Homo sapiens: one gene and its partners. The protein of the gene in region 4 purifies or fractionates together with the protein of the main gene of each other region. This does not show direct contact. Each region holds a gene or a part of one and is shown on either strand. Other genes may lie near its edges.

Region 1 (7,979 bases), on a different chromosome or scaffold from region 4:
TCTTTGAGGGGCTAGTATTCTGCCGACCACAATAGGCCAGAACCCTGAACAGTTTACTTTTTAGGCATCATATTTGCTAAAAACAAAACAAACAAAAAAACCAAACCAAACAAAGAAGTAAAAATCAAAACAAACAAAAAACACAGAGCCATTTTTTGGAAAGACAATAATAGGAAGTCAAAATAATGTTAATTTTGGAGTTATTATTGTTTATTTTATTTTATTTTATTTTTGAGATGGAGTCTCCCTCTGTCCCAGGCTGGAGTGCAGTGGCGTGATCTCGGCTCACTGCAACCTCCGCCTCCCGGGTTCAAGCGATTCTCCTGCCTCAGCCTCCAGAGTAGCTGGAATTACAGGCGCATGCCACCACGCCCGGCTAATTTTTGTATTTTTAGTAGAGACGGGCTTTCAGTACGTTGGCCAGGCTGGTCTCGAACTCCTGACCTCGTGATCCACCCACCTCGGCCTTCCAAAGTGGTGGGATTACAGGCGTGAGCCACCAAGCCCGGCAGCTTGAAGTTATTCTTACATGCTTTGGCAGATGTTAAAACGTTTGTTTTTTTTAAAATTCTCAACATTTAGATCTAGGACAGAGCACAATTTAAATACTTTCTAAAATTAAATTTGGCTGTTACATAAGATTCAGCATTGTTTACAGCAGCTTTTCTGTTTCATGCGTTATAATATAAGATAAAGTAGAAAGAACACCAAAGGTTTTCCTATGATAAGTCATCAACAAAATAAGTGTGGGCCATTAGCAAGTAGCTCTTGATATCTTACAGTGGGCTGAACAACAAATACTTTCTCTTGAAGAATTTGGATCCCTGTTAGCTAAGCTTAAAGTTCCCACTATTTTATTTTATTATTTTATTTATTTATTTATTTTTGAGACGAAGTCTCACTCTTGTCCCCCAGGCTGGAGTGCAATGGCGCAATCTTGGCTCACTGCAACCTCCGCCTCCCAGGTTCAAGCAATTCTCCCTCAGCCTCCTGAGTAGCTGGGATTACAGGCATGTGCCACCACGCCAGGCTAATTTTTTTTTTTTTTTTTTTGAGACAGAGTCTCGCTCTGTTGCCCAGGCTGGAGTGCAGTGGTGCGATCTTGGCTCACTGCAAGCTCCGCCTCCCAGGTTCACGCCATTCTTCTGCCTCAGCCTCTGGAGTAGCTGGGACTACAGTCGCCTGCCACCACGCCCGGCTAATTTTTTTTGTATTTTTAGTAGAGACGGGGTTTCATTGTGTTAGCCAGGATGGTCTCGATCTCCTGACCTCGTGATCCGCCCGCCTCGGCCTCCCAAAGTGCTGGGATTACAGGCGTGAGCCACTGCGCCTGGCCTCGCCTGGCTAATTTTTGTATTTTTAGTAGAGACGGGGTTTCACCATGTTGGCCAGGCTGGTCTTGAACTCCTGACCTCAGGTGAGCCATCCGCCTCGGCCTCCCAAAGTGCTGGGATTACAGGCGTGAGCTACCGTGCCCATCCAAGTTCCCACTTTTTTTTTGAGATGGAGTCTCGCTCTGTCGTCCAGGCTGGAGTGCAGTGGTGCGATCTCGGCTCACTGCAACCTCCACCTCCCAGATTCAAGCGATTCTCCTGCCTCAGCCTTCCCAGTAGCTGGGATTACAGGTGCCCACCACCACACCTGGCTAATTTTTGTGTTTTTAGTAGAGACGGGGTTTCAACATATGTGTAGGGTCCAGCCCTACGGGGCTTAGCATGTGTTCTCCCCCTGTGTGGAGACTAGAGATTGTAATAAATAAAGACACAAGACAAAGAGATAAAGAGAAAACAGCTGGGCCCCAGGGACCACTACCATCAAGACGCGGAGACCGGTAGTGGCCCCAAATGGCTGGGCTCGCTGATATTTATTGTATACAAGACAAGGGGGCAGGGTAAGGAGGGTGAATCTTCTAAGTGATTGACAAGGTGAAGCAGGTCAGGTGATTACAGGATAGGGGGCCCTTCCCTTTTAGGTAGCCGAAGCAGAGAGAGAAGGCAGCATACGTCAGCGTTTTCTTCTCTGCTCTTATAAGAAAGATCAAAGACTTTAAGACTTTCACTATTTCTTCTACCTCTATCTACTACGAATTTCAAAGACGAACCAGGAGTATGGGAGGAGCATGAAAGTGGACAAAGAGCGTGAGCATTGAAGCACAGCACCACAGGGAGGGGTTTAGGCTTCTGGATGACTGCGGGCAGGCCTGGATAATATCCAGCCTTCCACAAGAAGCTGGTGGAGCAGAGTGTCCCCTGACTCCTCCAAGGAAAGGAGACTCCCTTTCGCGGTCTGCTAAGTAACGGGTGCCTTCCCAGACACTGGCGTTACCGCTTGACCAAAGAGCCCTCAAGAGGCCCTTATGCGGGCGTGACAGAAGGCTCACCTCTTGCCTTCTAGGTCACTTCTCACAATGTCCCTTCAGCACCTGACCCTATACCCGCCGGTTATTCCTAGGTTATATTAGTAATGCAACAAAGAGTAATATTAAAAGCTAATGATTAATAATGCTTATAACAATGATTGATAATTGTTCATGACCATCTCTATATCTAATTTGTATTATGACTATTCTTATTCTAACTATTTTCTTTTTTATACTGAAACAGTTTGTGCCTTCAATCTCTTGCCTCCGCACCTAGGTATTCCTCCGCCCACACATATGTGGGGGAAAGGAAGCGAGATCAGACTGTTACTGTGTCTATGCAGAAAAAAAGAAGACATAAGAAACTCCGTTTTGATCTGTACTAAGAAAAATTCTTCTGCTTTGAGATGCTGTTAATCTGTAACTTTAGTTCCAACCCTGTGCTCACAGAAACATGCGCTGTATTGAATCAAGGTTTAAGGGATTTAGGGCTGTGCAGGATGTGCCTTGTTAACTATATGTTTGCAAGCAGTATGCTTGGTAAAAGTCATCGCCATTCTCCATTCTCTATTAACCAGGGACATGATGCACTGTGCAAAGCCACAGGGACCTCTGCCCGAGAAAGCCTGGGTATTGTCTCCCCGACTGAGACAGCCTGATATGGCCTTGTGGGAAGGGAAAGACCTTACCATCCCCCAGCCCGACACCCGTAAAGGGTCTGTGCTGAGAATTAGTAAAAGAGGAAGATCTCTTTGCGGTTGAGATAAGAGGAAGGCCTCTGTTTCCCGTATGTCCCTGGGAATGGAATGTCTTGGTGTAAAGCCCACCAGTCATTCTATTCTGAGATAGGAGAAAACTGCCCTATGGCTGGAGGTGAGATATGCTAGCGGTGATACTGCTCTGTTACTCTTTGCTACACTGAGATGTTTGGGTAAAGAGAAACATAAATCCAGCCTACGTGCACATCCGGGCACAGTACCTTCCCTTGAACTTATTTATGATGCAGATTCCTTTACTCACATGTTTTCCTGCTGACCTTCTTCCCACCATCACCCTGTTCTGCCGCAGTCCCCTTGCAGAGATAGTGAAAATAGTAATCAGTAAATACTGAGGGAACTGAGAGACCAGCGCCGGTGCAGGTCCTCGTATACTGAGTGTGCCGGTCCCCTGGGCCCACTGTTCTTTCTCTATACTTTGTGTCTTATTTCTTTTCTCAGTCTCTTGTCTCCACCTGACGAGAAATACCCACAGGTGTGGAGGGGCAGGCCCCCTTCAAACATGTTGGTCAGGCTGACCTGGAACTCCTGACCTCAGGTGATCCTCCAGCCTCGGCCTCCCAAAGTGCTGAGATTACAAGCGTGAACCACTGTGCCTGGCCCTCACCCCAGTTTATAGATGGGGGACCTAACGCACCCAAAGGGAACTGTGTGAGTTCTCACATCCAATGAGGGGCTGAACCGTGATTGAAACCCAGCACCGTCTCACTGTGGCATCTCTGCCCTTGAGTTATCTCCCAAAGGCATCCCAACCAGACTTTTCATAACCAGTCCCAGAATCTCACCAGTGCTCCATAGCTGTGGTTGAGGCACTGTCCCCAAGCCTGGGTCCTGAGACCCTACCAGCAGAAGAACCACTGCCTGTCCAGCCCCTCCTACACAGCTCAGGGGCTGGATCCCCACCAGTGTGATGTGCTGATTGAGCTAACACCACTCCATGGCTGTCTACACAGGCACTGAGAGATGCAATCCGTTGGCTTGAGAGCCGGGCAGCTGAGCCCAGGAGAGCAGGGTCCCCTCCCAGCCCTTTGGCCTCTTCCAGACCTGCCCAGTTGCTCCTTCTCCCTCCCTCCTTTCCTGGGGTCACTTCTTCTTCCCTCCTCAGTCTCTCCTTCCTCCATTCCCTGGGTGCCCGCCCCTGCCCCGGGGTTCTGGACCTCCTTGGAACCTTGGATTCACTCTCTGCCTCTCACCCACGCTCTTTCTCTGGGGCGTCTCCTCGTGCTTCTCTCATGGTCACTTCACCAGGACCGACTCCTCCCCGGAGCCTGGAGGCACCCACTTGCTGGTGGGAGAGAGTGTCTGGCGTGGGGCCAGTCTCCCTCTCTGGGTCTCTGCCTCACTCCTCACTGCACCCTCTCATGCCTGTCAGTCTTTCTACCTCTCCCCCTTTTTGCCTCGGTTTCCCCATCCCTCTGTCCCTTCTTAAGCTCTCATCCTTACAGTACGCTAGAAGGCAGGCTCTATTATCCTTTAGGATTTAGGCCTCTTTAGATAAAAGGGCTCACAGGCTTGGAGGGTTTTAAGTGACTTACCCGGCGGCGGAGTACTGATCTTAGTACCGCCCGCCGCCCCGGACTGCCCCGCCCCTCCCTAGCCCCCCCATCCCCGCCCCTCCCTAGCCCCCCCATCCCCGCCCCTCCCTAGCCCCCCCATCCCCGCCCCTCTCCCGCCCCTCCCTTGTCCCCGCCCCTTCCCGCCCCAACTCAGGTTCTGCCCCACCCCGCCCCAATTCACGTCCTGCTCCGCCCCGACGTAGGCCCCGCCCTGGCCCCCGGGCCCCGCCCCCGTCTGACGCAGGCCCCGCCCCCTCTCCGCCCCGCCCCGGCTCGGGCGGCCGGAGGACCCGGAGCTAAGGCGCCCGAACCCGCGGCGGCGGTGGGGACGATGTGGTTCTTTGCCCGGGACCCGGTCCGGGACTTTCCGTTCGAGCTCATCCCGGAGCCCCCAGAGGGCGGCCTGCCCGGGCCCTGGGCCCTGCACCGCGGCCGCAAGAAGGTGAGTGCGGCCGAGCTCCGTAGGCCGCGGTCGACCTGGGCCTTGCCTATTCCGCGCCGCCGACCCCGTCGCGTTGCGCCCGGCCTGACGTGGCGGCGGAACCAAGGGGTAGCAGGCCGGGGAGGGGGCGGGCAGTGCCTACGTGGCGGGCGGAGGGACCGAGGGACCGACAGGCGGACAGGGCCGGGGTCACGTGGGCCCGGCGAAGTGTCCCTAAGGCTGACCTGGGGAGAGACCTGGCTGCGGGCCCTTGTCTTCCGGCCACACAACAGCTCTGGGACCATCTCAGGCCCCGCTGCCCTCCCCTAGGCCACAGGCAGCCCCGTGTCCATCTTCGTCTATGATGTGAAGCCTGGCGCGGAAGAGCAGACCCAGGTGGCCAAAGCTGCCTTCAAGCGCTTCAAAACTCTACGGCACCCCAACATCCTGGCTTACATCGATGGACTGGAGGTACCTGCTGCCTTGCCTGCCCGTCTCTGCCCCTCACGATGTCCTGGTTACCCACTCCTGTCTCCCCTCCTGCCCTGTTTCCACCCTATGTGCCCCAGCACCCCCAGATTTGGTTTCCTCTTCCCCATCTCTCCCAACTTCAAGTCGCTTATCTCTCCTTCCTCTCTGCCCCTCCGCCCTTGATAACCCTGTGTCCCCTTCCCCAGACAGAAAAATGCCTCCACGTCGTGACAGAGGCTGTGACCCCGTTGGGAATATACCTCAAGGCGAGAGTGGAGGCTGGTGGCCTGAAGGAGCTGGAGATCTCCTGGGGGCTACACCAGATCGTGGTGAGGTGGGGGGCAGTGGTGATGAGAGCAGGGATGGGGGGTTGCAGGTGCTGGGGCGTGATGGCTCCTTTTGCCCCCAGAAAGCCCTCAGCTTCCTGGTCAACGACTGCAGCCTCATCCACAACAATGTCTGCATGGCCGCCGTGTTCGTGGACCGAGCTGGCGAGTGGAAGCTTGGGGGCCTGGACTACATGTATTCGGCCCAGGGCAACGGTGGGGGACCTCCCCGCAAGGGGATCCCCGAGCTTGAGCAGTATGACCCCCCGGAGTTGGCTGACAGCAGTGGCAGAGTGGTCAGAGAGAAGTGGTGGGTGACTGGGGGCAGCGCGCCCCAACCTGCCCTGTCCTGGAGGCCCCTGCAGCCTCAGGACTCCTAGACTAGTTGGCACTCCCCTGTTCCCTGCTGCCTGGCTGGGGAGGGAATCAGTGTCCCAGGAGTGAGGGACACTCCTCTGCCCCCAGGGTCCTCAGGGCGGTAGGGCGGGATGGACACAGCATTCGGGGTTGGGTGATTCTGAACTTGAAAGCTCTGTGACCTGGACAGATGTGCCTAGTTCTCTGAGGCTTGGTTTTTTTAATCTGTTAAGTGAGGCTAATGAAACCTGCCTCTTGGGACTGATGGCTCAGCTGAGGGACATAGCCAGGCCCTGGCATGCAGTGGGTGCCTGGTGCCCAAGGCAGGCTGGAGGCCTGTGCAGGTGGTTGGTGGGGCCCTAAGAGCTCTGGGTCACTGCCACAGGTCAGCAGACATGTGGCGCTTGGGCTGCCTCATTTGGGAAGTCTTCAATGGGCCCCTACCTCGGGCAGCAGCCCTACGCAACCCTGGGAAGGTAAGTTTCTTGCCCCTGGCTCTTTGCCCTGCCTCAGCCCCTCTGCCAGCTGGCTACCCCTGCCCTGACACTGACCCCTCCCCTACAGATCCCCAAAACGCTGGTGCCCCATTACTGTGAGCTGGTGGGAGCAAACCCCAAGGTGCGTCCCAACCCAGCCCGCTTCCTGCAGAACTGCCGGGCACCTGGTGGCTTCATGAGCAACCGCTTTGTAGAAACCAACCTCTTCCTGGAGGAGATTCAGGTGAGCCCCCAACCCACCCTGGGCTTCGACCCTATCTTTTTCATTCTGCCCCTACCCTGCTTTTCAGGGTACCTCACAATTGACCCTCAGGAGACAAGCATGGACTGTGGAGTTAGGCCAATCCGGGTTCAAACCCAGGCTCCAGCTCATACTTACTCTGTGACTTCCCTTGGCTGAAGTTCAGTCCCAATAATAGTACAGGTTGAGCATCCCTAATCCGAAAATGCATGATCTACTCCAACACTGGAAACTTTTTGACCACCAACATTACAATCCAAGGAAATGCCCATTAGAGCATTTTGCATTTCAGATTTTTTTGGATTACAGATGTTAAATTGGAGCCAGGCGCGGTGGCTCATGCCTGTAATCCCAGCACTTTGGGAGGCTGAGGTGGGTGGATCACCTGAGGTCAGGAATTCGACACCAGCCTGACCAACATGGAGAAACCCCATCTCTACTAAAAATACAAAAAATCAGCTGGGCGGGCATCTGTAATCCCAGCTACTCCAGAGGCTGAGGTAGGAGAATCACTTGAACCCAGGAGACGGAGGTTGCAGTGAGCCGAGATCGTGCCACTGCACTCTAGCCCGGGCGACAGTGTGAGACTTCGTCTCAAAAAAAAAAAAAAAAAAAAGATGTTGAATTGGTATAATGCACATATTCCAAAATCCAAAAAACATCTGAAATCTGAAACACTTCTGGTCCCAAACATTTTGGACAAGGGAGACTCAACCTGTACCTACTTCAAAGGGACCCAGTGAGGAGTCAGAATTGAAAATGTGTGGTATAGTGTTCTGTGCCCAGCAGGCATTTAGGGCCAGCTCTGGTTACTCCAGTCACTCCACGTGTACATTCTGGCTCTGGTCCCCAGGGGTGTAACACCCTGTACTGGCTGCAGGGGGGTGGGCAGCACGGTGTGGAGGAAGGTGAGGCGGACCTAGATCACTGTCCTCAAGAATCTAGCAAAAAGTAAACAGACCAGATCCCCAACCT
Region 2 (7,061 bases), on a different chromosome or scaffold from region 4:
CTGCACTATTCCAAGAGGAAACTCAATCCCTGTCCAACATTTGCAGAATCATGGGGTTTACACAGTAGTGTTGTGAATAGATTGTGCGTGCCTGGGAACCAGGACCTCCCTCTCCCCACTATGTCAGGATAATAGCCTGCCTGCACCTGACCTGGCCAAGGTAATGCTGCACCATGTTGCTGAGCCCCACAACCATGGAATGTTGAGCAGGGGACTTTGGTGATCTTGGAGTCCAGCACCTTTATTTTACAGTGAAAGAAACTGGATCCAGGGAGGTGAATTGGTATTCCCGAGTCACATGGTTGCCAGTGGCCAAGAGACTTGATGGAGAAGACCAAAGAAGGGTTCTATTTTTGATCCTAAATGTGATTATGAAATTGCTGACACCTCCAGTCTTTGCTTGGAAACTAGAAGAGGAAGGGGCCATTTGTCCCTGTGCTTATTGAGGGAGGGGGTGTTAGTTTCTTCTGGAGGAGTCTCTTACTCTTTCCAGACTCCCTGGAGACATGGGAGGCTGGGGAGTGAGCAGGGAAGGGACCTGCTGCTCAGCCCAGCCGGGACTCACCGGGTGTCTGCAGTGGGGCTTCTCTGACCTCCAGGCTGGTGGGCTGGTGGAATGCCAGGAGATAAGGAGTCCAGAGTCCGCCCCATCGACTGTCGCCAGCCAGGGCTTCATGCCCACCTAGGGGACAGGAGGGCAGGCCCTAGAACACAGGGTCACGAAGCCCCACTATCTTGTTCCCCCCTCCCCCCACTACCGTGGGCATTAAACCTCTCAGGGGGCCCCTGGTTGGGCCTGGCAGAGGCAGAGACGCAGAGGCTGGGCCCTCTGACCTGCACAAGGAAAAGAGGCCGGGAAAGCCACAGAATTGGCCTGCCCAAGGGAGCCCAGAGTGCCCAGCCATGGGAAACCGAATTCTCCGCCTTGGCAACTGGAGATCGGACTGTTGTTAGAACTCCTAACCTCCCTCCAAGGGCAGGCCCCAGAGAATCTTGGGGCTTGGTGGAATGAGAAGGTGAATGCCCTACATTTATTACCGCCGAGTTCCTAATGGCCCTCGTAGGCAGTGCATTCAGTATTAGTAGTTAATAAAAAAAATCAGATAAAAGTTGGATATCTAAAAAAAAAATACATGTCTTTTTTTTTTTTTTTTTTTTTTTTTTTTTTTTTTTTTGAGACGGAGTCTCGCTCTGTCGCCCAGGCTGGAGTGCAGTGGTGCGATCTCGGCTCACTGCAACCTCTGCCTCCTGGGTTCAAGCAATTCTCTGCCCCAGCCTCCCAAGTAGCTGTGATCACAGGTGCCTGCCATCACACTTGGCTAATTTTTGTATTTTTAGTAGAGACGGGGTTTCACCATGTTGGCCAGGCTGGTTTTGAACTCCTGACCTCGTGATCTACCCACCTCGGCCTCCCAAAGTGCTGGGATTACAGGCATGAGCCACTGTGCCCAGCCAAATCATATCTTTTATCTTTTTTTTTTTTTTTGAGACGGAGCCTTGCTCTGTGGCCCAGGCTGGAGTGCAGTGGCACGATCTCGGCTCACTGCAAACTCTGCCTCCCGGGTTCAAGCCATTCTCCTGCCTCAGCTTCCCGAGTAGCTAGGATTATAGGCGCCCGCCACCACGCCTGGCTAATTTTTGTATTTTTAGTAGAGACGAGGTTTCACCATGTTGGCCAGGCTGGTCTCCAACTCCTGACTTTGTGATCCGCCCGCCTCAGCCTCCCAAAGTGCTGGGATTACAGGTGTGAGCCACTTGCACCCGGCCCCTTTATTTTATCTTTAAAACATGTATGTATTTTTATTCACCAAAACTTTGATTTAGGGCCAAGCCCTTTCCTTTGAGTCTTTAGATCCCTTATTTAGACTACTTAGAAATTGTTTGTATATAAAAATCATACTTAAATGTATTACCTGTAATTTCTCATTTCTTTCATTTTATTAAATTTTTTTTTCCTACTAGGCTCCGTATTCACATAGTTGAAAAATCAAGACGGTAAAAAACAGCAAAACCTTGTCTTCCCCCAGCTTTTCAATAAATGCTCCAAGGTAGCATTTTAAACATCATTCAGCACCTTGCTTTTTTCACCTAGCAACTATATTAAGATCTTTTCCATATCAGCACATAGAATGCTTTTAGCATTCTCTGTCATAGCTGTGTAGTATTGCATAGTATGGAAGTATCATCTTTTTTAACCAACACACATATCACCCTGTCTGCGCTTATGTTTGCAGAATATATCTGTGAAGTGGAATCGCTGGGTAAAAGGTTAAATCTGTTAATTAGCTTTCACTAAATAAAAAAATGAAGCGAAGACAAGAGATATTTGCAAAACAGCCATGTTCGGAATCCAGTTACTGCTTTTATGTACATACCTAGTTTAATTTCAGCTTTTTATTATTTTTCCATTTGCAACAAATCTTTCTAGATGAGTAATTCTCAAACTTTTTGATGCTAGGACCCCTTACATTGTCTTTTGTATATGTGGCTATCTGTATTGATAGTATATTAAAAATTAAAACTAAGTAAAGAAAAATTTTTTTGAGACATGGTCTCACTACGTTACCCAAGCTAGTCTTAAACTCTGGCTTCAAGCGATCCTTCTGCCTCAGCCTCAAGACTGAGAAATTTTAAAATAGTTATTTATTCATTTAAAAAGCAAAAATAAGGCGATTACACGTTAACATTAAAAAAAAAAATGTTTTGAACGGGCGCAGTGACTCACACCTATAATCCCAGCATGTTGGGAGGCCGAGCTGGGCAGATCACAAGGTCAAGAGATCCCGACCATCCTGGCCAACATGGTGAAACCTCGTCTCTACTAAAAATACAAAAAATTAGCTGGGTGTGGTGGTGCACGCCTGTAGTCCCAGCTACTCTGGAGGCTGAGGCAGGAGAATCGCTTGAACCTGGGAAGCAGAGGTTGCAGTGAGCCAAGATTACGCCACTGCACTCCAGCCTGGTGACAGAGCGAGACTCCATCTCAAAAAAAAAAAAAAAGTTTCATGAAAAATAACTATATTTTCCAAAATAAAGTAGTCAAAAGAATGGCCTTGTTAGCATATTTTTAGAAATTTCAGGATTTTAAAATAATTATTTATTGGATGATAATGAGATAACAGGTTATAATAGGTGTAACTTAAATTTGCTGTTAAGAAGTCAGTTAAAAGTTCTGAGAACAAATTGAGCTAATCTCTGAGACCACCTATATATTATATTATACCCTAAACTTCTACCTTAGAAATTTCTCAAAGACTCAAGATGACACAGGTACGTGTCACATTTCATGTAGCTTCTGAAAAGTGAGAGTGAAAAGCTTTTAATTTTTGTATATTAGAATAAAAATAGTCTTTTACTTCAGGGACCCCAGGTGTCATATAAGACAGTAATTTCAGAATTACTGTTCGAGATCACTTAGCTTAAATTTCTCAGAAGTCAGACATTTTTCTTTGCATTTATTCTTCAGGGTTTTTTGTTTTTGTTTTCTCGTTTTTTTTTTTTTTTCCAAGGCAGAGTGTCTCTCTGTCACCCAGGCGGGAGTGCAGTAGCGCAATCTCACCGCAACCTATACCTCCCAGGTTCAAGTGATTCTTCTGCCTCAGCCTCTCAAGTAGCTGGGATGCAGACACGCGCCACCACGCCCAGCTAATTTTTTGTATTTTTAGTGGACATGGGGTTTCGCCATGGTGGCCAGGCTGGTCTCGAACTCGAGCTCAAGTGATCCACCGGTCTTGGCCTCCCGAAGTGCTGGGACTGAAGTGCTGGGACTAAAGGCGTGAGCCACCGTGCCCAGCCCTCAGTTGTTATTTAAATAAATCATAATCATTTAAATAAATAGAACCTGCATAAAGAGGTTTGGGAATAGGCACAGCTGTTGGCATGGGAACCCTCAATGGTGACAGCAGGTGGTGGGGTTGGGGGGAGGTTGGCCACCTGGCGAGGGGCCTGTTGGCTGCAGGGAGGGACTGGAGACCTGGGGTCCTTGAGCAGTCCAGTGGCGCTCAGCTAAGAGAGCTGCTGAGTACCATCTCCATTCCCGAGATGCTTGTGAAATGTGTGAGGAGCTATGCATGTGTGGAAAGTCAGATGCAGGATGGCCTTCCTGAAGCTGCAGTAAGTGGAACAGAGGAGGGGTACTGGGTGAGGCCAGAGGAGGGAGTGGCAGGAGGTGACAGAGAAGGCTTCTTGGGGAGGGACTGAGCCACATCTTGAAAGCTAGGAAGCGGGAGAGAGAGCAGGGTCCTGGTAAGGAGAGCCGTGTGAATGCTGGTGGGATGGTACACGTGGCCCAGAGTGGCTGAGAGGGAGCAGCAAGTGAGGTAGCTGGAAATGTACGTTGGGTCTAGGAGTCTTGAATGGCTCGGGTGTCTAAGGTACGAGTGTTCTCTTGGAACTCAGAGCTGTTTCCATATCAGAGACTTGCCAGCAGCCCTCTGTCTTGGGGTGCAGCCTGCCAGCCTGCTCTTTTTTTTTTTTTTTTTTTTTTTGAGACAGGGTCTCACTCTGTTGCCCAGGCTAGAGTGCAGTGGGTATGATCTCAGCTCACTGAAACCTCCCCTCCTGAGCTCAAGCGATTCTCCCATCACAGCCTCCCAGGTAGCTGGGACTCCAGGTGCACACCACCACACCTAGCTAATTTTTGTGTTTTTAGTAGAGATGGGGTTCCACCATGTTGGCCAGCCTGGTCTCGAACTCCTGACCTCAAGTGATCCACCCGCCTTGGCCTCCCAGAGTGCTGGGATTACAGGCGTGAGCCACCGCGCCTGGCCAGCCTGCTCTTATCTGGAGCAACTCCATGGCCCCACGTCCATGTCCTCTGTACCAGTCCACTTCCTCCAGCCTCCTGCCACCTTCCTTAGCCCTCAGAAGCATCTAGCAGCCTCCTTTCCAGTCTGAACACAGCCCTTAGAAGTCTCTCCCAGAAACTGTAATAGATGTGATTAACTATACACAGAATTCCCCCAAACAATTGTTTGGTATTTTTGTCGACTTTATTTCCTTCTGATTATTAAAAGTAATGCATGCATATTGTAAAGTGCAAAAAAGTATTTGGGGGAAAGTCGATAATCCTGCTGCAGTCTCTCTTTACATATTGGCATATTTCCTTACAGTTGTTTTTTTTTTGGGGGGAGGGGATACAATTGGCTATCTACACCCATCTTACCTCGACATCAAAATTTCTCCCTAAGCATTTATTCTGCCTTATGGCTGTATCTTTTTTTTTTTTGAGACGGAGTCTCACTCTGTTGCCCAGGCTGGAGTGCAGTGGCACAATCTCGGCTCACTGCAACCTCCGCCTCCCAGGTTCAAGCAATTCTCCTGCCTCAGCGCCCCCTAATAATAGCTGGGATTACAGGCATGCACCACCATGCCCGGCTAATTTTTGTGTTTTTAGTAGAGGTGGGGTTTCGCCATGTTGGCCAGACTGATCTCAAACTCGACCTCAGGTGATCTACCCGCCTTGGCTTACCAAAGTGCTGGGATTACAGGCATGAGCCACTGCACCCAGCCATGGCTGTATCTTAGTTTGCTTAACCATTTCCTTTTATTTTAAACTTTTCTTTTGAACTAATTTTAGATGTACAGAAGAGTTGCAAAAATATAGCAGAATTCCTTTATATTCCTCACCCCAGAGTATAATTATATAATCAGGAGCAGGAAATCAACATTGGCATAACACTGTTAACTAAACTGCAGGCCTTATTTAAACGTCACCAATATTTTCACTAATGTCCATTTGCTGTTTCCAGGATCTGATATGGGATCCCACACTGTTTAGTTATTTCTCCTTAGTTTGCTGCAATCTGTGGCAGTCTCTCCCTCTTTTCTTGCTAGAATGTTGGAACGCAAAGTGATGTTGCATCCTTTAGAGGTATTCATCATGTCACAGTTTTTTGTTGTTGTTGTTAATTTTGAGACAGGGTCTCACTCAGTGCACAGGCTGGAGGGCAGTGGTGTGATCTCGGCTCTCTGCAGCCTCCACCTCCCAGTTTCAAGCAATTCTCCTGCCTCAGCCTCCCAAGTAGCTGGGATTACAGGCATGAGCCACCACACCTAATTTTTTTTTTTTTTTTTTTTGTATTTTCAGTAGAGACAGGGTTTCACCATGTTGTCCAGGCTAGTCTTGAACTCCTGAGCTCAAGTGATCCACCCACCTCAGCCTCCCAAAGTGTTGGGATTATAGGCGTGAGCCACTGCACTCGGCCATGTTGGAGTATTTTTTTACTGGTGACATTTATCTAGATTGGCTGGTGTCTGCTTGATTTCCACACTGAAAAAAGGTGGGTTTTCTGTTGTTGTTGTTTTACAAAAACTGAATGGGGCCAGGCACGGTGGCTCACACCTATAATCCTAGCATTTTGGGAGGCCGAGGCAGGCAAAGGCCGACGTCGGGAGTTCAAGACCAGCCTAGCCAACATGGTGAAACCCCATCTCCACTAAAAATACAAAAATTAGCCAGGCATGGTGACATGCACCTGTAATTGCAGCTACTCGGGAGGCTGAGACAGGAGAATCGCTTGAACCTGGGAGGTGGAGGCTGCAGTGAGCTGAGATGGAGCCACTGCACTCCAGCCTGGGCAACAGAGTGAGACAATGTCTGGGGAAAAAAAAAATACTGAATGGATAAACTGAAGAAGTTATCTTTCTTTCCCTTTGTAGTTTCAGGAGATACTTTGAGACTATGCAAATCCTGTTTCTCCTTGTACTTTCATCCCCTAATTTTAGCACCCATCTGTAGACCCTGCTTGCAACAATGATGACTGTGATGTTTGACTAATGATTCTCTATTTCCCTCTTGTACATTTATTTATTGGAATTCTTTGTAAGCAAGAGCTGGCCCTGCTTCCCCATTTATTTATGCATTTGGTTATTCATAATCAGATTTTGTTCTGTGGGTTAAAGTTGAATAATATTTTTTGAGGCTCAAATTGTTCTAGCTTTGACCATTTTGGGAGCTCCTTCCGGTTGTCTCCTGTGTTCTTCTGGTAAGCCCCTGCCATTTTTTTTTTTAAGTGTTTCCTTAATTTCCTTTACTACAAAATATTCCAGGCTCATCTTGT
Region 3 (7,414 bases), on a different chromosome or scaffold from region 4:
TGGTGGCGTGTGCCTGTAATCCCAGGTACTTGGGAGGCTGAGGCAGGAGAATCGCTTGAACCTGGGAGGCAGAGGTTGCAGTGAGCTGAGATTGCACTACTGCACTCCAGCCTGGGTGATAAAGTGAAACGCCATCTCAGAAAAAAAAAAAAAAATCCCTTAAGGTCTATTGAGTGTCAGGACACCAAGTCCTACAAATGGGTCCTTTTTCTTTGTGGGGCCTATATCTAGGAGGCAGGGAACAGATTTCTAAACAAATCAGTGATATAATATGTTGTGGACTATAAGACAGAAATCTGTACCTGGGACAGAAAAGAAGAGTTAAATTCTTCTGGGAGTTGTCAGAAAAGACTTCATAAAGAAGGGACAAGGAGAAGGTGGGATGAGAGAAATGCAGAAAGAGAAAAAGGCGAACCTCGGAAGTGTGGGAAGACTTACTTAGGTCTAGCAGAATGGAAAGAAAATAAAATCAAATGAAGATCATTGAGAATTAGCAGTCAGAGAGAGAGAGAGAGAAAAAAAAAAAAGTAGGATAGAGAAGTGTCCTGAAAGATAAGGCTGGCTAACAAGGAAGGGCCATCACATGGGTGGTGCAGAGGGTCAAAGAGGATGAGGATGACTATTAAAGCTGAAGATCACATAGCTATGAAAGTTAGTTTTTATAGTGGGAGAGTTGGGGGAGAGAGTAGGTAGTGTTTGGAACTAGACCCACGGAAAAAGAGAAGGATAATGAGAAGGCTAGTGGATACACTATGGGGAGGGTTATAGGGAGCACATTTAAATATTAAAACAAGGAACAAGCCCGGCGTGGTGGCTCACACCTGTAATCCCAGCACTTTGGGAGGCTGAGGCGGGTGGATCACGTGAGGTCAGGAGTTCGAGACCAAACTGACCAACATGGAGAAACACCGTCTCTACTAAAAATACAAAATTAGCCAAACGTGGTGGCACATGCCTGTAATCCCAGCTACTAGGGAGGCTGAGGCAGGAGAATCGCTTGAACCTGGAGGCAAAGGTTGTGGTGAGCTGAGATTGTGCCATTGCATCCAGCCTGGGCAAGAAGAGTGAAACCCCATCTCAAAAAAAAAAAAACAAAAAAAACAAAAAAAAAAACACAAACACACAACACACAAAAAAACAATCAAATGAGAAGGCAAAAATCTCTTAGCTGCATGAATCATGATGGTGGGTTATCTTTGTTTTCTATACAGGTGTACTTGCCAAGTTCGGTCACTTCTTTCTACAGACACTGCCCCCTAGAACCCACTTCTTTCAAAATGTGAACTAGTGAAGGGCACCACCTACCATCTAGAGCTCTATCCAAGAGGGATGACATAGCACAGCCATTCAAGTCACAGGTTCTGGAATTAGACAGTCCTTCCCTAGCAATGTGACTATGTGAAAAATTATTGACTTATTTCCCCCCCCTTTTTTTCTTGAGATGGAGTCACTCTGTTGCCCAGGCTGGAGAGCAGTGGCGTGACCTCGTCTCACTGCAGTCTCCGCCTCTCGGGTTCAAGCGATTCTCCTGCCTCAGCCTCCCGTGTAGCTGGAATTACAGTCACCTGCCACCATGCCCAGCTAATTTTTGTATTTTTAGTAAAGACAGGGTTTCACCATGTTGGCCAGGCTGGTCTTGAACTCCTGACGTCAGGTGATATGCCTGCCTCGGCCTCCCAAAGTGCTAGGATTACAGGTGTGAGCCACCGCGCCCAGCCATTACTTTGGTTTTTCTAACATGAAAAATAAAGTAATAACCGTACTGGTCTCATAACGTTATTATGTGATTAAATGAGATAACGCATGTAATATGTTTAGAACATATCTGGCATATAGTTCTAGCACAAAAAATATTCGCTATTGAACAAGAACAGAAAAAAAGCAGGACCTTGTGCCAGCAAAGTATATGACTTCCCCTATTCCTGTATTCTTCAAGAGGTCTTGCACTGAATCAAGCAGATCCTTTAAAAAAGCAAGACATCAGGCTCAATAAACAGATTCACCTAGTGACAATAATATAGGCTTTGGAACCAGGCAGCCATGAGTCAAACTTTAGTGAAGCCATTTATAAACTTGATCTTTCTGAATCTCAGATTATATATTTGTAAAAATGAGGTTAATACTACCCACCTCTCAGGATTGTGAAGATTAAGATAGATTTCTAGTTGCAGACACTTAGCACATTTTACATAAATAAATGTTGACTAAGTGTTCTTGGAATTGAAATTGTGGTAAGATTTTACTCCTGGTGTCATTTTACCCCTGTGGGATTCTGCTCCTTCTCTGACCTCAACTTAGCTGTGAATTCTATTGTCCCCGCTGCTAGACTTTACTAACATTAACCACGTTGATTTTCATGCCTGGAGAGAAGAGGGATCATGCAGAACGGAACAGAGTACAGGAAGAGAAGGCTGCAACAACCACCACAACACCCTGGAGGGCACAGGGAGAGAGAAAAACTTCTGCCAGGCATTGCTGAGATAGAACACAGGTAGCACTCATCAACCTTGGTTCTGTTCACCCAAGCATCAAGTCCAGAAGACACTCCTTGCTACTGTTTCTCCTCTTTCTCGGTGCCTCAGTCCTGTCATGTAAGGAAATCAGACATAGGAGAAAAAAACAAAAAAAAAAAAAGAAGAAGAAGAAGACGAAAAGAAAAACCTCCCACATAGAAGTATGTTAAAAATCTATCTCTCTGGATGCTCGGTTCCTTTCTCGTTCTCATTAACTGATAGAAGGCCACTGACACCAACATTGGCCTAAGCTAAAATTGGTTTTCTTTTTCAGAGATTGTAGGTTGATTCTAGGTTGCAGAAAAGGCAAAATATTTTGCTAGAGGCATGGAATACAGATTAGGTTGGTGATGTCACAAAAGAGGTTTTCAACAGTGTCAGCAGAGGCTATAGTGATGAGTAAGGAAGTTGATAAACGGCAACATCTGAAATAGCTACTCGCCCTGAATAGGCAGGTGGAGAATATTAGTTACACGTGGGACAAATCCCATTATGAGACATATCATCACAACAAGAATATTTCATTCTAGATTTTAGAATCCCAGGTTTTGGCTCACTTTGGTCAAGAAAAATTATAAATAATTGAGTTACAGATAATTAAATGTTAGCCTCCTGGAGTGCATGGCAATTGGTTTTGACCTCTATATTAAAATTCACAAGACCACGGACATAAGTCAAAACAGGTCCCCTTCGTCTCCCTAGTCACCATCTCCAGGGCTAAAAAACAGACTTGAAATGGGTGGCAGTTAGACTACAGGAAACAGGATCTACAAGCACCAGGAGCTCATCTATGGCTATCTGACATCGCCTGGGGACACCTCACTCTCTGGCAGGCTCCTGCTGGCTGGAGATTGTTAACATCGCCAATCAGATGTTAATTGAATGCAAAGGAATAGGAAATAAATTCTGGTTCTGAAGGGGCAGCTGGAAAGGTGTTGGGCTTCTCAGATTCCAACCTACATTACAAAGCAGGCCTAAAGCCAAGCATACTCCTTGCCAGAAGAAACGGAAAGCCCCTCTCCCGTTTTTAGAATCAGGCTGGAAAACACGGCTCCCAGAAGGTGGGGTTAGAAAACAAGAGCTTGCGAGGCGGCGCCCTGTGGTCCCTCGAGGAAATAGTAGAGAGACAAAGAGGGCCTGCTCCTGGGAAGCCCTAAATTCGAAGCCAATCCTTCCTCCTAGACATGACCACAACTTTAAAGGGCAGGGCGCACACCTCCCCTCCCGGATCTCTAGGACAAAGGCAGGTCGAGGGTAAATATTTCTAGTTATTCAGTATATTCAGTGGCTAACTATTTATTTTGTGGGTACCAGACACCGACATAATCGGTTACGTCCTTCCCTTAATTCTCATAATTCTGAGGTTTGTGTTATTAACCCCCTATTATCTTTGGTCTACCCAGGGCAGCCAAAGAGGCGCAGAGAAGAATGACAAGGTGCCCAGCAAGCGGCAGGATCAAAGCCTGGGTCTCTAATTCCCAGGCTGGAGATTCTGGGCTGCCTGCTCCTCCTGCACGGGGCGAAAAGCCCACCTGGGATCCGAGCGGGCGGCCGCGCCACTCTCGCAGGCTCCATACACCCGCCACTACCCGCCTGTACCACCTGCAGCCGGCAGCGCAGCCTCCTCGCGGGTCCCGCAGGGCGCGCTGCAGGTGCGCTGGGCGTCCCGAAGCCCCGCCCTCGCGTCCCTGCCCCGCGCCCAGCTCCTCACGCTCGGTGCCCGCGCCCCGCAGCGGCAGCGCAGAACGCACCGCCTCTGCCAGAGCCCGGGAAGCGCTCGGGCGAAGAGGAGGAGCCAAGGGTACCGAGCGGGTGGAGTCGGGAGCCGGAGAGCGGTGGAGGCGGATTTCCTGGGCCCGGCCCTCTGGCGCTACCATGGCGTTTGGCAAGAGTCACCGGGATCCCTACGCGACCTCCGTGGGCCACCTCATAGGTAAGGAGGCGCGGGGAGAGACGCCCAGGCAGGCAGGGGACCGTGGGATCCTTTCCTGCTTGATCCATTCTCGGCCTGCAGAGGACGGAGTTAGTCCAACTTGAAAAAATTATTCCCCTCCCCCCGCAACTTTCCCAAGGCACCCGCATTCCACCCGGCCCCCTTTCGTCGTTTCCTTCTTGGCCAACTCACTGTAGAACCTCAGTCCTCAAAAATGTACCTTCCTTTCGATGCCGCCTGGGGAGTGGAACCAAACAGGTGAACCGCGGGAGTCAGGCATGGAGTGTTTGGGCCTCCACGAGGAGACACCAGAAACTTCTCGGTAGGGGAAGTTATTCCTAAAGGCACATTCTCCAGGGCACGGTATTGTTATGCCCGTTTTACAGATCAGAAGAGGAGGCTCTGGGAGACTAAGTGATGTGGCCTTACTGTGAGGGGCAGGTCTCCCCAAACCAGTTTTCTCTAGTGCCAAGCTTATACAACCTGGATTACTTTTCTGGGTAAACAAAGAGAATGAAAATGCTTGGCATTGGAGTGAAGAGGAGGGGAACATAGGAGCCATCTGGGGCCACGGAGGTCTCTCGCAGGCCACTAGGGACTACACCAGCATCCACCTAAATGATTTCTCTCTCCTCCGGATGTACCTTGCATGATGTATGTAGAAGCCAGTGATTGGACTCCTACCAGCACCAGCTCACTGCTCCTTCTTTTCCCTGATTCCTCCCTTGGGAATTGGGTGTGGCACGAGTGCATATTAATGCCAGGCAAAGTGTGATGATGTCAGGAACTTAGTGGGGTGATGAAATCGTGAGAACCTAGTAGTTGTAGTAAAGAGGCCCAGATTTGGAAAATTTAGATCACAGCTCTACTAACTGCTGTGACACCGAACACACCACTTAAACAGAACCTTAGTTTACACATCCTTATAAGATGGTCAGAGTAGCTACCATTGAGGAGATGCTTTCCCTTAATGGCTGTGCTTTTTTGGATATTAGAATGAACCCCAAGCAGAAATGGATTCAGACTGTGTCTTCATAGGCAAACGAAACTTCAGCAGTTCTTCTGCTTAATTTTTTAATTCTGTAAACATGGACTAACTGTCAGCTATGTGCCTGGACCTGGATCAGGCACTGGTGAGGCCAAGGTGAGACGTGGTCTCAAACCTGAGGGAACTCACTTTCTTGTAGAGAAGACGGGCACAGTTTTGTGTGGCACCTTTGCAATGCAAGAAAATGCAAAACACACAAAACTTAGGAGAAGGGAGAAATGAATTCTGCGTGGCTTTTGAAGGGTGAATAGGAGTTTTCTTTTCTAGGGAGGTAAGCTTTGTCCATTCGGTGCCAGATTCAAGTTTTTTGTTGTTGTTGTTTTGTTTTTGTTTTTGTTTTTGTTTTGAGACGGGGAGTGACACCCAGGCTGGAGTGCAGTAGCTCTCGGCACACTGCAACCTCCGCCTACCGGGTTCAAGCACTTCTCCTTCCTCAGCCTCCCGAGTAGCTGGGACTACAGGCACATGCCACCACGCCAGGCTAATTTTTGTATTTTTAGTAGAGATGGAGTTTCACCATGCTGGCCAGGCTGGTCTCGACCTCCTGACCTCAGGTGATCTACCCACCTCGGCCTCCCAAAGTGATTGGGATTACAGGCGGGAGCCACCGGGCCCCGCCTCAAGTGGTTCTTTTCCTGGATTGAAAGCAAGCTAAACTTTGGGGTTCCCCCAAGCAAGTCCTTATTCTTCCCCTTCTCTATCTTTTTTGTTTTTTTCTCCATTTCCCCCAGAACCCGGTGTTTTCATGCTTAGGGATCTTGTCCTTCTCTTAGGAAGATGTTAGCGCATTCATACTGAGTGTTCCATTACCCTTTCCAGATAACATCTTGTATTCTTAAAGCGGCTGTCTGGAGAGGGAAAGATGCCTGATTATCTAATCATAGGGTTCCAAGTGCAGAAGCATTCTGGTCAGCCTGGTGCAGCTGTGGTTAGTTTAGATGCTTATTATTATTAGTTCGGATAGTTATCCAGCGCCAGTTTGAAATAATTAAGGCTGAAAGTAAAAGTGTATGCAATGGAAGTTTTTACATAGTTGAGGTAAGCAGTGTCTTTGCAAGTATTGGTTGAAGTTATAATAATTGGTAAAATTAGAAGGAATCGTGAGATTAAGATGATAGGACAATAAACGTATTACTTTTATTTGGAGTTGTGCCAATGTTTTGGCTCCTAAGAACAACGGATTACTTCTCTCCTTTAAAAGTTCTTTCCTCCTGTCCCCCCAGAGAATAAATTATTTTTAAAAACAAACAGTGGGACCAAACAACCTAGATTTGAATGCCAATTCTACTTCATACTGACTGTATAACTTTGGTAATTTCCTAACCTCTCTGAACTTCTATCTCATCATCTCTCACAGTGGGTTAAATGAAATTGCGTATGATAAAATACTTAGCACTATGCAGTTCACCTTCTAGGTAGCTGCTCACTAAGCCCTAGTTCCCTTCTCTGAAAGCCAGGCAGGCGGAGATTTAGCTGGCCTGGCCTGGGCCTGTGGCCAGCTGTTGTGCTTGAGGTCTTTATTAATAGGTCACTCATTACTGTTGCTGCAGCAGCACTCTGAACTTGGGTTCTGATTGATTCCTGAATTACTGAGAACTGTTCCAAAAAAAATCACTTTGCCCTTTGGCAATGTAAACTTAATGACACTTGCTGGTGCAGCCTAGGCAGATTATTTCAGGAATACCAGACATTTTTTATTCTGTTGTAGCTCAGACTCAACAGCTTTTTCTTGGCAGAAAAGGCTACATTTGCTGGAGTTCAGACTGAAGATTGGGGCCAGTTCATGCACATCTGTGACATAATTAACACTACCCAGGATGGGTGAGTACAGCATGGTTTCCATGTATTTGCCTCTGACAAGAAGCATCAGAACTACAGCACGTTTTCTCTTGCAAATATTTCGGTTTTGTTGTTGAAAGA
Region 4 (7,421 bases):
AATGAGGCCCCCTCAGAACTGGAAAGCCTCCTTCTGGGTGTGGAGGTGGGCAGCAATCTGCCATTTGGCCCTGGGGTCATCTCTCTGGCTCAGTTTGCTTATCTGTGAGCCCAGATGTCGGCAAGTTCAGGCTGAGAATTAGAGCAAATAATGAAGAGGGAGCCCCTTTCCCAGGGCCTGGCTCATATGCACCGTGGACAACAAATACCAAAAAGGCTGGGCACGTGGCTCACACCCGGAATCTCAGCACTCTGGGAGGCCGAGGTGGGTGGATCACTTGACGTCAGGAGTTCGAGACCAGCCTGGCCAACATGGTGAAACCCCACCACTACTAAAAATACAAAGATTAGCCGGGCGTGGTGGCAGGTGCCTGTCATCCCAGCTACTCTGGTGGCTGAATGAGGCAGAAGAATTGCTGGAACCCAGGAGGCGGAGGCTGCAGTGAGCCAAGATCGTGCCACTGCACTCCAGCCTGGGCGACAGAGCAAGTCTCTGTCTCAAACAAACAAATAAACAAAAAAACTACTTTTCTTCTTTTCATTCCTAGCAAAAATCCCCTCTCTGGACAAATACTACTCAAGGTCAGAATCTCCCTTTGCCCCCAGTTTTTCATTGAGGAGGCTGAGGATCTGAGTCTCTCTCTTTTTTTTTTTTTTGAGATCCAATCCAGTCTCACTCTGTTGCCCAGGCAGGAGTGCAATGGCATGATCTTGGCTCACCACGAGTCTCTTTCTTAATAACCAACCCCATTACCGGGTCAGGAGAAGCTGCTGCGCTGTGGCTGCATCAGGGCCTAGAGCCGGGCTGCCTGCCTCTGCTGCCCTGTGTGCTGGCGGATAAGGTAGGGAGGTTTGTTATGCCTCAGTTTCCTTAAAGGTAAAATGGGGTGTCAGTCGTCTCTACCTTGTGGCCTGGTTTTGGTTAATGAACTAATCTACACACATAACAAGGGCTCAACAAAGGTTAGCGATGACGTTTCCTGCCAATCTGAGCACCTGCACACTGGAACCCTGTAAACAGTTGAGGGTGGGTGGCTGACTTCCAGTTCCCTTCAAATGCTTCTCTGAGTGTCTGCGCACCTGCGGCTCTCCAGGGGCTCGACTCAGGTCTCAGTGATCACAGATTCTAATGAAGAAAGGGTCTGTCTCTGTCATCCAGGCTGGAGTGCAGGGGGCACGTTCATGGCTCACTGCAGCCTCGACTCCCACCTAAGCCTCCTGAGTAGCTGAGACTACAGGTGTGCTGGACCACACCCAGCTAATTTTAATTTTGTTGCCCAGGCTGGTCTGTCAGTGAAGTTTTACACCAGTGAGACAAACATAATATTTGGGGCTCATCTAAAAGCTCAAAGTGAGGCTGAAGGAGCCATCCAATGTTTAAATGAAGAGGTACATCATAATTCATTTTTAATAAGTATGCAGAGCTGGGTGGCTCATGCCTCTAATCCTGGCATTTTGGGAGGCCAAGGTGAGAGGATCGTTGAAGCCAGGAGTCTGAGAGTGGCCTGGGTAACAGAATGAGACCCCATCTTTACTAAATAAATAATAAATAAATAAATAGCTGGGCGTGGTGGTGCATGCTTATAGCCCTAGCTATTTGAGAGGCTGAGGTGGGAGGATCCCTTCAGGGATCCTGCAGTGAGCTATGATCATACCACTGCACTCCTAGCCTGGGTGACGGGGGGACACCCTTTTTCTAATAGTAATAATAAATTATAAAATATATAAATTATAAAATGTGTGCTTATGATAAATCTAAACATTACTACCTAACATACATAGAAATTTTATTGTAATAAAATTTCTTTACCCTTGCCCATTCACTATCATATCTTCACAGAGCCTTCTGGACTTGTATCTGCCTATGTTGTTTTCTGTTTTTTTTTTTTTTTTATTTGTTTGTTTGTTTTGAGACAGAGTCTCGCTCTGTCGCCCAGGCCAGAGTGCAATGGCTAGATCTCAGCTCACTGCAACCTCTGCCTCCCGGGTTCAAGCAATTCTTCTGTCTCAGCCTTCTGAGTAACTAGGATTACAAGAGAGCACCAGCACGCCCAGCTAATTTTTGTATCTTGTTTTAGCAGAGGTGGAGTTTCACCATGGCTGGTCTGGAACCCCCGACCTCAAGTGATCCACCCGCCTTGGCCTCCCAAAGTGCTGGGATTACAGGTGTGAGCCACTGCATCTGGTCTTTTTTTTTTTTTTTTTTTTTGAGATAGAGTCTCACTGTGTCACCTAGGCTGGAGTGCAGTGGCACAATCTTGACTCACTGCAACCTCTGCCTCCCAGGTTCAAGCAGTTCTCTGCCTTAGCCTCCCGAGTAGCTGGGATTACAGGCGCCTGCACCACGCCAGGCTAATTTTTTTTTTGTATTTTTAGTAGATACGGGGTTTCACCATCTTGGCCAGTCTAGTCTTGAACTCCTGACCTCGTGATCCACCAGCCTCAGCCTCCCAAAGTGCTGGGATTACAGACAGGTGTGAGCCACCGTGCCTGGCCATTTTTTGTTTGTTTGTTTGTTTTAAATAAAGCACATCATTGTATATTCACTGCTCTGCACTATTTTTATTTTTTAATTTAACAGATCTTGGAGACTATATCCTATCTGTGTACACAGAATTATCACATCACAACTTTAGAAAATGTTTTAAATTAAAAATGCTAAATGAATGTTCTAGAGTTTATTTAACCAAGTGTCTGGTTGTTCTCAGGCTTCCTGTGATTATAGGTATAGCTGTAAGTCAGCACATCCCTGTATCCACACATCCCGTGGTGCCTGTGAGAATTTATCTGTGGCACAGATTACCCAAAATGACATGAGGGGTGAGAGGTTTTACAAATGGTGAATTCCACGAGCTTTGCAAATCTTAACTCCTTTTTCAAGAATAAGGGAACTGTGAGTAGGACAGGTGCACGGTACTTTCATTTTATTTTAGTCTAAGTATTTTCTGAAATAATTTGAGGAGGCTTAAAGGGAGGTGCAAGCTGGGTGCGGGGGCTCATACTTGTAATCCCAGCACTTTGAGAGGAGGAGGTGGGAGAATACTTGAGCTCAGGAGTTCGAGATCAGCCTGGGCAACACCGTGAGGCCCCATTTCTACAAAAAAAATTTTTTTTAAATTAGCCAGACATGGTGGTGTGTGCCTGTGGTCCCAGCTACTTGGGAGGCTGAGGTGGGAGGATCACTTGAGCCCTGGAGTTCAAGGCTTCAGCGAGCTATGATTGTACCACTGCACTCCAGGGTGGGCGACAGAGCAAGACCCTGTCTCAATAATAATAAAAATAAAAAAAAAAAAAAGGAAAAAAAGGGGCACAGTAGACAGTACCAGTACTTGGTATTTTAAATGGTTTTCAAATGAAGCCCACCCAAGCTCAGCAAGTCCAGCCGGGGCCTGAGGACCTGAGCAGGCGCCAGGTCACACAAGGTACCGGGCGCAGGAGGCGGAGCCCGCAGCGGGCCCTGCCCTGACAGCGGCACCTGCGCGGCCTCCGCAGGTTCTGGGATCGGCCGCTGGCCAGGTGCAAGGGAGGGGGGACGGCAGCCGCTGTCCTGGGGCTGAGAGGGCTCCGCGGTCTGGAGGGGACGGCGTCAGCGCCCGCGGGGGTTCGCAGGGCAGCCCCGGGGCGACCCCCACCCCCGCCACGGTCAAGTGTCGATACAGTGTTGCCAGCCGGGTGCCAACTATGAATAAGTCCAAGGGCGCGGCACGTGGGCCGAAACGCGATCCTTCCGCGGAGCCGCTGCGCGCAGGGCCGTCCCCACCGAGCCCGCCGCGCGGCGACCCCTGACGGCGACCCTAAGCCCCGGCCGACCAGGGCAGGAGCTCGCGCGCGAAACTTCCCCGGCGCCCGCAGGAGACCCCGGCAGGGGAGATGGCGGGGCCCAGGCAGAGCTCGGAGGCCCCTCCCGGCCCCACCCCGCGCCCCGGCCCCCTCTGCCCCCGACCCGGTCCGGGGGAGCCCTCGCGGGACCCCAGCCTGGTCCTTCGCCGCCTCCCCCCGTTCAGCCCCGACCCCCCTGATCCCCGCGCCCCCCGCGGTCCCGGCCCGCCCCCTCCCCCAGCCCGGGCCCCAGCCCCGTCCGTTAGCGGATCCCACGCAGGCTCCGCGCCCGGCCCCGCCGGCGCCCTCGGCCCACACCTCTCTCCGCGCGCGTGTCCCGCCGTGTCGCCCCCGTGTCCCCTCCGCGTCCCCCCCCGCGCCGTCCCCCCGCGTCCCCCCCCGCGTCCTTCCCCCGTGTCCCCCCAGCGTGTCCCTCGGCCGCCCCGCGCGCGCCGGCGGAACTGTGGGATCGCCGCGCACAGGAAGTGGCGGCGGCGGCGCGGCCGAGGGCGGAGGGCGGAGGGCGGCGGGATGGGGGCCGGGGGCGGCGGGCGCCGCACTCGCTGAGGCCCCGACGCAGGGCCGGGCCGGGCCCAGGGCCGAGGAGCGCGGCGGCCAGAGCGGGGCCGCGGAGGCGACGCCGGGGACGCCCGCGCGACGAGCAGGTGGCGGCGGCTGCAGGTGAGCACCGAGGCCCCCACCCGAGGTCGGGCCGCCCCCCTCTTCCCCCACGCCCCGCCGCCGCCCGAGGTCGCCCTCCCGCCGCCGGAGGTCGCCCCTGCCCCAGCCGTCCGACCTCGGGCCGCCCGGGGCCCCGCGCCGCAATGGGCCGGCCGCGCTCCGCGGGGCGCGGGGCCTGGGAAGGCGCGGGGCCGGGAGGAGGTCTGGGCCCGGGTCCTGTGCGCCCCCCGCAACCCCGGCCTCCCCGGCGGCCTGGTCCAGCGCGAGGCCCCGGCCGCTTCCCGCAGCAGCCTCGGTGGCGCTGGGCCCAGCGGGGAGGCCCGGGGGTTCGGGGCGCCCGGGAGGGGCCCGGGCCGGGCCGAGGGAGGGCGAGTGGGTTCCCGCGGGGACGTCCCATCCCTCCGTCCTGGACTCTGCTCCGGGCCCCGCTCGGCTCCCCCGTGGACAGGACGCGCCCGCCGCCTGGTTTCGGGGCGCGGCGGACCCGGGACCCCCCCCAGGGGCCTCCTCCTCGCGCGCCCAGGCCAAGGGAGCAGTTTCACTTTTGCCGCTCCGCGCGGGGAGGGCTGCGGGGCCCGGGGTTGGCTGTGGGTTCGGCCCGGAGACCGGCGGCGCGTTTGCACCGGGCGGGTCAGGGGATGGGGTCAGTCCGGGGGCAAGAGCCGTGGGGGCGAAAACCCACTCCTGGCCACCCCAGGACCCTTGGAACATTGGTCCCAAGTACTTAGGAAAGGAGGGTTATTAGTATTTGAAGGCAGTTAAAAATGGTGCAGTGTTTTTTTTTTTTTTTTTAACTTTGAGAGAAGTTTAGTGACATGGGGAAAATGCTTTTATAAATGGCTTCCCAGACCTTTAAAAAAAAAAAAGCACAATTTTAAAAGCTTTGTCTAGGAGAATACTTGAGCAGTTGGGTTCTTTTTCCTGGGAAACATGATCTTAGTAGAAGAAAGATGTGGGCTGTTGGCCTCCAGACAGAGGGTGATGAGCATGCGGCTCTTATTAAAAATGAAAGCCAACGCCGAGAGCCTGCTGGGGGCTGGGAGGTGGGGCGGGCGGCGGGCCCAGGCTGCTAGAGGGACCCAGGATCCTGCAGCTTTTAAATTGCAGGCGCGGCTGCTCCGACTCGACTCGCTTAGGAATTGCTGAACTTCGTCTTCTCAGTTTGAAAGCTTCAGAGGGGTCTCCCGAGGATGCTGAGCACTCTCTTGATTTGGCCACTTCTTTGCCGCCCCCCCTCCCTCTTTCCAACCAATCCTCCTCCCCCACAGAGTTCGGCGTTAGCCTGTGCCTGTTACAACTCGCTTCTTGTATCCATTTCTGGTTAGTCTTAAGTATCTTCTTGAGGACATTGTCTAAAAAGCAGCTGCATGCCATTGACATTCAGACAGAACAGGGCCCCTTGGCCTTAGAAGGTGTAGGGGCCTTAAATATTCTGAAGGTGACTTCATGGAGTGGCCGCCCTCTGTGGTCACCCTACCTGTGCGTGGCCCTGTCCTGGCGTATCTGCCAGGGGGACGCGCTGCAGCAGCCTGAAGACTGCTGGGTTAAAGGCAGTGTGGCCGGGTGGGAAAGTCCCCAGGAGTGTGGATTCTAGAACAGGCCTTCCTGGAGGGAGGGTGCTGCCCCGCCCCAGGCTGGGGCCCCAGTGCAGACTCCACGCTGGGGAGCTACACCCTGCGCCTGGACGCGCGTCTGTGTGCCAGGACTGGGGAAGCAAACTGAAAGTAATGGCTTTATTTTGGAAATTAGAAAAAGAGCATTCACCAAAGTAATCTGTTCCGTCCCTGCCGTAGACACGTGACTGATACACCTGCCTCCCATCCCCTCCGCACTTTGACCTCGTAAACAAGTGATCTGACACAACAGGGCTTGAGTTACTTGCCCGAGGTTGTGTCACGGAACGGCAGGGCCGCCTTTAGGCTTACATCCCTGGAACTCCCACCTCCACAGACCCGTCCGGGTGCTGAAAGTCCACGGATGCTATCCCTGGTCAAATCAGAGGTAGGTGGGAAATGTTGGAATTCTCCTAAACAGGGAAGGGGAAGATCAGAATGTGTGTTTGAGAAGAGCCTGATTTCCTGGATTCCTTTGGAGGAGGGGTGTCCTTAACTTGCCCAATCACATTTACCCTGTTCATCAATCTTCAGCCCCGCTTAGGCTCTCACATTGCAGACCCCACGGCAGAGCCCCTAGTGCTTGGCACTGAAGAGCCAGTGCAGGCCCGTTGTCACCATCAAAACCCACCTCTGGTAAATTCAATGGCTTCTGCTTCCACGCTTTGCCCCCCCTCTCTGGCCTTGTCAAAAACTCTTGTGATGTCCCTGTTATAAGGTATCGCCGGTGGACTGGTGTTTCTAGATCGCAGCGTGGGACGTGATTGGCTACATTTGACTGTTTCCTTTTTAATGACTTGTTTAATGTGAGATCTTTAGCTGCTCCATCTCATTGCAAGATTTTTGTTACAGTAAAGTTGGACTGAGTTTTCTAAAGACAGTTGCTCAGAAATTTCATGGGAATTTACTTTTGGTTAACCGAAGAGTGTTTGGGGTTTTAAACGGGTCGTTTCAAGTGGTAAAGTAACATGACCACGAGGCGTCTGTCCTTCCTAAAACCACTTCATCATAATTTCAAGATTGATTCTAAATTACCAATTTCAAAGCGCTGCATTTTAGGCAAGTGCATTAATCGTTCACCTTCTGACAGGCTTTCATGTAGTCATTTACAAGCGGCCATGTTTTGATTATCTTTGTCAAGCAAAGTGCAGGAGACAGGCAGTCTCATAACCTTGGGGCAGTGTCTGTGTTTAGTTTTGGAGGCGGGAAGGCCGAGTTGATGGTGAAAGTTGGCCATTCTTTCTGCAGGGCCAAAGTCTGTACCTGGCTATTAGGGTGCATGGATGCTGGGGTTAAATTGGCCACGTCT

The links.
Region 1: the proteins of AGPAT3 (region 4) and SCYL1 purify together in Homo sapiens (affinity purification with mass spectrometry; 2 studies listed by BioGRID and IntAct, with this or other methods). This does not show direct contact.
Region 2: the proteins of AGPAT3 (region 4) and SLC39A14 purify together in Homo sapiens (affinity purification with mass spectrometry; 2 studies listed by BioGRID and IntAct, with this or other methods). This does not show direct contact.
Region 3: the proteins of AGPAT3 (region 4) and TOM1L1 purify together in Homo sapiens (affinity purification with mass spectrometry; 2 studies listed by BioGRID and IntAct, with this or other methods). This does not show direct contact.

The regions. Positions count from the first base shown.
Region 1 is NC_000011.10:65,520,132-65,528,110, forward strand, and holds the start of SCYL1 (N-terminal kinase-like protein), read left to right. Parts: upstream 1-4,951; 5' UTR 4,952-5,022; coding exon 5,023-5,133; intron 5,134-5,422; exon of another isoform or gene 5,423-5,442; coding exon 5,443-5,583; intron 5,584-5,789; coding exon 5,790-5,912; coding exon of another isoform or gene 5,913-5,917; intron 5,918-5,992; coding exon 5,993-6,219; intron 6,220-6,651; coding exon 6,652-6,742; intron 6,743-6,830; coding exon 6,831-6,986; intron 6,987-7,979. UniProt on the Homo sapiens protein: Regulates COPI-mediated retrograde protein traffic at the interface between the Golgi apparatus and the endoplasmic reticulum. Involved in the maintenance of the Golgi apparatus morphology.
Region 2 is NC_000008.11:22,370,277-22,377,337, forward strand, and holds part of SLC39A14 (metal cation symporter ZIP14 isoform a precursor), read left to right. Parts: intron 1-7,061. UniProt on the Homo sapiens protein: Electroneutral transporter of the plasma membrane mediating the cellular uptake of the divalent metal cations zinc, manganese and iron that are important for tissue homeostasis, metabolism, development and immunity.
Region 3 is NC_000017.11:54,896,478-54,903,891, forward strand, and holds the start of TOM1L1 (TOM1-like protein 1), read left to right. Parts: upstream 1-4,374; 5' UTR 4,375-4,388; coding exon 4,389-4,446; intron 4,447-7,230; coding exon 7,231-7,315; intron 7,316-7,414. UniProt on the Homo sapiens protein: Probable adapter protein involved in signaling pathways. Interacts with the SH2 and SH3 domains of various signaling proteins when it is phosphorylated. May promote FYN activation, possibly by disrupting intramolecular SH3-dependent interactions.
Region 4 is NC_000021.9:43,860,847-43,868,267, forward strand, and holds the start of AGPAT3 (1-acyl-sn-glycerol-3-phosphate acyltransferase gamma), read left to right. Parts: upstream 1-4,376; 5' UTR 4,377-4,499; exon of another isoform or gene 4,500-5,819; intron 5,820-6,292; exon of another isoform or gene 6,293-6,476; coding exon of another isoform or gene 6,477-6,500; intron 6,501-7,421. UniProt on the Homo sapiens protein: Converts 1-acyl-sn-glycerol-3-phosphate (lysophosphatidic acid or LPA) into 1,2-diacyl-sn-glycerol-3-phosphate (phosphatidic acid or PA) by incorporating an acyl moiety at the sn-2 position of the glycerol backbone.